Linked DNA regions of Homo sapiens: region 1 is linked to region 2. Evidence: fine-mapped expression QTL. A gene starts in region 2. The other region holds a variant in brackets. All regions are shown on one strand. Distances are from middle to middle.

The links. PIP is the estimated chance that this variant, and not a neighbour inherited with it, causes the effect.
Region 1: its variant is fine-mapped to the expression of MST1 in whole blood (TOPMed, PIP above 0.99).

The regions. Positions count from the first base shown.
Region 1 is chr3:49,782,171-49,785,182 of GRCh38, forward strand. All of the region lies in intron 1 of IP6K1 (inositol hexakisphosphate kinase 1), which reads right to left. Among named protein-coding and RNA genes, the nearest start is that of IP6K1, 2.9 kb to the right of the region's middle. The variant G/A (reference allele first, on the strand shown) is at 1,759.
Region 2 is chr3:49,688,343-49,691,079 of GRCh38, forward strand. It overlaps MST1 (macrophage stimulating 1), which reads right to left and starts at 1,132. Exons shown (of 18, transcript NM_020998.4): 1 at 256-1,132. The coding sequence starts at 349. RNF123 (ring finger protein 123) reads left to right here and starts at 1,215. Exons shown (of 39, transcript NM_022064.5): 1 at 1,215-1,264. RefSeq lists an enhancer at 486-1,045.

The sequences.
Region 1 (3,012 bases), 94 kb after region 2:
CTTTTTCTTTTTTTTTTTGAGACGGAGTCTAGCTCTGTCGCCCAGGCTGGAGTGCAGTGGCGCAATCTCGGCTCACTGCAACCTCCACCTCCCAGGTTCAAGTGATTCTCCTGCCTCAGCCTCCTGAGTAGCTGGGATTACAGGTGCACGCCACCACACCTGGCTAATCTTTGTATTTTTAGTAGAGACGGTTTTTCACCATGTTGGTCAGGCTGGTATGGAACTCCTGACCTCGTGACCCGCCCACCTTGGCCTCCCACAGTGCTGGGATTACAGGCTTGAGCCACCGCGCCCGGCCTGGAGGGTCTACTATTATAACAACAGTCTGACACATTTGCACTTAAAAATGCCCATCACAAGCCAGGCACAGTGGCTCATGCCTGCACTTTAGGAACCCGAGGCAGGAGGATCATTTGCACCCACGAGTTTGAGACTAGCCTGAGCAACATAGTGAGACCCCCATCTCTACAAAAAAATTAAGACAAAGAAAATTAGCCAGGCATGGTGGCGCATGTGTGTAGTCCTAGCTACTTTGGAAGCTGAGGCAAGAAGATCACTTGAGCCCAGGAGTTGGAGGCTGCAGTGAGCTACAATTGTGTCACTACACTCCAGCCTAGGAGGTTTTTAAGAGACTGTCTCTTAAAAAAGGCCAGGCGTGGCCAGGTGTGGTGGCTCACACCTGTAATCCCAGCACTTTGGGAGGCCAAGGTGGGTGGATCACTTGAGGTCAGGAGTTTGAGACCAGCCTGGCCAACATGGCAAAACCCCGGCTCTACTAAAAAAAAAAAAAAAAAAAAAAATTAGCCAGGCGTGCTGGCGCACTCCTGTAGTCCCAGCTACTCGGGAGGCTGAGGCAGGAGTATCACTTGAACCCAGGAGGCGGAAGTTGCAGTGAGACAAGATCATGCCACTGCATTCCAGCCTGGGCGACAGAGTGAGACTCTGTCTCAAAAAAAAAAAAAGGCCAGGCATGGTGGCTCATGCCTGTAATCCTAGCATTTTGGGAGGCCAAGACAGGAGGATCACTTGAGACTAGGAGTTCAAGCCCAGTCTGGGCAACTGAGACCCCATCTCTACATAAGTAATTTTTAAAAATGCAAATGACAGCCAGTGTGGTGTCTCACCCCTGTAATCCCAGGCCAAGGCTGAGGCAGGTGGATCACCTGTCAGGAGTGACCAGCCTGGCCAACATGGTGAAACCCTGTCTCAGAAAAAAAAAAAAAGCAGGGGCTTGGGACAATTTTGAAAAGCTAATATTTTTGCTGGGTGCAGTAGCTCTCGCCTGTAATCCCAGCACTTTGGGAGGCCGAGGTAGACGGATCATGAGGTCAGGAGATCGAGACCATCCTGGCTAACACGGTGAAACCCCGTCTCTCCTAAAAATACAAAAAAATTGGCCGGGCATGGTGGCAGGTGCCTATAGTCCCAGCTATTTGGGAAGCTGAGGCAGGAGAATGGCGTGAACCCAGGAGGTGGAGCTTGCAGTAAGCCAAGACCATGCCACTGCACTCCAGCCAGCGCAACCGAGCGAGATTCCGTCTCAAAAAAAAAAAAAAAGAAAGAAAGAAAAGCTAATATTTTAATATCCCCCTCCTTTCAAGAACTGCCCAAGGAACTGGTCTTACCAAGATTATAATGAACTAAAGATTCAAAAAATGGCCCTGAAGGACAATGAAATAAATAACTAAAGACTACTCAACTTCTCCCTTGCCTCACAAGTGCAGTATAAACTCAGTCGAACAGCAACAAGCTGCCAGC[G/A]TCCTCTGGGTTCAGCACCTGCTTTCCTAAAGGATCTCCTGACCAAGGAGCTGGTTTCTTTCAAAATTATTATTTTATTTATTATTTATTTATTTATTTATTTTTGGAGACTGAGTCTCACTCTGTCACCCAGGCTGGAGTGCAGTGGCGCGATCTCAGCTCACTGCAACCTCCGCTTTCCGGGTTCAGGTGATTCTCCTGCCTCAGCCTCCATGCACCACCACGCCCAGCTAATTTTTGTATTTTTAGTAGACATGGGATTTTGCCATTTTGGATAGGCTAATCTCTTAACTACTGACCTCAGGTGATCCGCCCGCCTCAGCCTCCCAAAGTGCTGGGATTACAGACATGAGCTACCGCACCTGGCCTCTTTCAAAATTATACATTCAGAGGTGACAAGATCCTGATAGAAGTGCACAAAGTAGGCTAGGCGCGTGACCAGGCACAGTGGCTCACGCCTGTAATCCCAGCACTTTGGGAGGCCAAGGCAGGCGGATCAGGAGGTCAGGAGTTCGAGATCAGCCTGAACAACATGGTGAAACCAGGTCTCTACTAAAAATACAGAAATTAGCCGGGCATGGTGGCACGCACCTGTAATCCCAGCTACTTGGGAGGCTGGGGCAGGAGACTTGCTTGAACCCAGGAGGCAGAGGTTGCAGTCAGCTGAGATTGTGCCATTGCACTCCAGCCTGGGTGAGAGAACGAGACTTCGTCTCAGAAAAAAAAAAAAAAAGTAGGCTTGGCGCGGTGGCTCATGCCTGTAATCCCAACAATTTGGGAGGCGGAGGCGGGTTGATCATGAGGTCAGGAGTTCGAGACCAGTCTGGCCAACATAGTGAAACCCCGTCTCTACTAAAAATACAAAAATTAGCCAGGTGTGGTGGCACGTGCCTGTAGTCCCAGCTACTCGGGAGGCTGAGGCAGGAAAATTGCTTGAACCAGGGAGTCAGAGGTTGCAGTGAGCCGAGATGGCACCACTGTACTCCAGCCTGGCAACGGAGCAAGACTCCATCTCAAAAAAACAAAACAAAACAAAACAAAACAAAAAGTGCACAAAGTATTGTCGCTTGACTTCTTAGTCATCTCATGCAGGCATATTCTATGACCACATACAAGAAGACTGTACAAAGAACCAAAGAGGCCACAGGTCAAGAGAAATGTGTTTTGGAGCAATGAGAACTCTTCCTAGACCTGCACACTCTACTGAGGATCTCCAACTTGCCCAAATTCACAGGAAAGGGGCTTGAAGGTGTT
Region 2 (2,737 bases):
GGGTCACTGCCTGCTGTGTGCGTGCATCTGTGTGGTCCTGACACTGCTTCAGTGCTAGAGCAGACGTGCTAATAGAGGCCTAAGTGGGCAATGTCTATGTGTTCCTAGGGCTTCCCAGCTGTGCTCAAGAGGGCAAGGTCACTGCCCCATGCCCACTGAGCCTCTGGCTCCCCGACTTTTTTCTCATCCTAGAATAGGAGAATGGGGCCAACCCCCTCCTGAAGGCAGATGGGGATCAGGGTTGGGGGCACTTACCAGGGACCCCTAAGCATTGAGTCAGAAGCAGCAGGAGTGGGAGCCACCCCATCCTTCTGGCTGGAGGCTGCACTGTGACCCACCACAGCCCCATCCGGGAAGTTGTGAAACCTGTCCCTACGGGATTGGGTGGCTCTGGCTCCACACGTCAGCTCAGGGCCTGCTGGACCCTGACCTGAGACCTGGTGACAGGAGCCATGAGGGGCCAGGCCTCAGGTCCCATAGGTCAGTTGCAAGGGCCTAGTACAGCTTAGTGGACAGGTGTTAGGAAGGTTTGGTGGGGACACTTGAGGTGCCCTGGGGTTGGGGTGAAACCCCTCTGCAGCCTAGTCAGCCCAAGGGCATTGTGAAAGTGAGAGCTGCCAGAGGTCTGGGCTCCAGCCCCTGGGTGACATTAAACTTTTCTGAATTTCGGTTTTTCCCTGTAAATTGGGGAAAATTACTTGCCCCAGCTTCAACACTGCCTCCCCTCCACCCTTTTGCTGCTGCCTTATCAGGCCCCAGCTGTAGGCAGGTCAGCCCACACCCGGCGGCAGAGCCCAGAGAGGCTCGCTCATCTCAGCCGCCAGAAGTGTCATCCCAGGGAAGGTGAGCGAGGCTGTCCACTAGGACTAAATAGGGGTGGAGGTAACAGGTAGCAGGGACTCTGGCAGGAACGGCCTTTCAGACGTTTTAAGGACCGTCTGAGCGGGGCCTCTAAGTATGGGTAGGAGACAGGCGGCCTAGGGATTCCGGTTAGCATGTCGCGTTCTGCCGCAGCAGGGCTGGGAGCATCCCCAGAGCAGGCGGAGGTCGGAGGTGGTGAGGCCTTTCGGCGAAGCTGAGGCCTGGAACAACCCGGTGGGAAGCCATGGAGGGGGTCCCCTAGCGGAGGCTGGGCGCGGGCCAGTGCGCGTGCGCGGCTGGAGGCTCAGCGCGCAAGCGTGCGCGTGATTTGGCCCTGAACGGACGCCGTAGCCAAGAGGTTGGGCGGATGTTGTGAGCCGGGTCGCTGCGGCCGAGGCTCCGGGTGAGTGAGGGGCGGCAGGGCTCTGAGCCTGGCGGGTTCCGGCTATTCCCTTCGCGGTCCGGGCTAGTCCAGTGCGAGGGCACCTGCAGCGCAGGGATCTGGGTGCGAAACTCCGAGCGGAAGCTGGTCTGGCAGGTCCTGTGGAGCTTGGGGCCAGGCGGGGGCGACTTGGGGGAGCCATGCGCCGCCCTCGCCGTCCTTGGGCTCCCAGACGGAGTAGGTTCAGTTCTGAGTCCGGATACCCCGGCGGGGTTGGACGGGATAGCCGTGACAGGGAGTCCCCGGGCGGGGACAAGGTCCGCCTCTCACCTGGGTCCTCAGCAACTGACTCCCGGAGCCCACTCCGGGTGTCTGGAAGGTCTGCTCATCAAATGAATGACTGAGTTTAATCAGATCTTCAACTACTCTGGTAGTGAAGGGGCACCGATCATGGACGCCCACCGAGGGCCCGAGGTCGGGAAAATCACCTTCCCGAGGAGCAGGCGTGGTGCAGACCCACAAGGGTTTGTGGCGGGAGTAGAGGGTCTGTTTGGGGTGAGATAAGAGACTGAACTGCAGAGTAGGGAGTGCTGGCTAAGGCAGTGCTGCAGAGCGAAACTCTAGACCTGCGCTGTCTAATAGAACTTTATATGATGGTGGGAACGTTCTACCTTTGTGCTGTCCAACAGAGTAACCATTAGCCACATGTGGTCATTGAACTCTTGAAATGTGGCTAAGGCAACTGAGAAATCGAATTGTTAATTTTTAAAACTTTAAATTTAAGTAACCTCATGTGGATGACGGCTGCTGTGTTGGACAGCACCGCTACACATCAGTGAGGCCAGCACCAGGGACTCAGTGCAGGTTCTGGAGCAGCTGCAGCAGCAACATGATGTGAGGGATAGATGCACTAGGAGGACCAATGGAGTTTGCCATGAGGGCTGGGCAAGGGTGGTGCTTGGATGAGGTGGGAGGCCACATGTGTGAGTGGGAATGGTGAAACTATCAGGACCATGGATAAAAGAAGGGAGGAACCCAGGGCTGAGGAAAGAGGCTCCAGCCTTGTGGGGAGTAAGTGGGACTTATGGCTAGAGATGACCAGACCAGTGGTGGTCTGCACTTGGGGGAATGTGTAGGATTGTCGCTTCTGGTTGTGAGCTGGACTCAGTATGGCTTACAACTGAGATGGATACAGGGGCTCTGCCCCTAGGACACCTCACTTTGGACATTTTGGTCTGATTTCCACAGAGCTGAGACATTTTGTTATGGTTCGGCAAAAATATATCTAGTACCTGCTCTCTGCCCAGCCCTGTGCTGGGCACAGGGACACTGGAGAACAAGAAGTGGTCCCTGTTACATGGGCCTAGACCCTGGCTACCCTCCCTGTGTAGGAAGCTGGGAGCCCCTGCATTCCCCTGCCCTATGTGTTAGTGTGCATGCCCCTGGCCTCACCTGCTCCCAAGCCTTCCTGCCATGGCAGGACTGAGGTCAGGT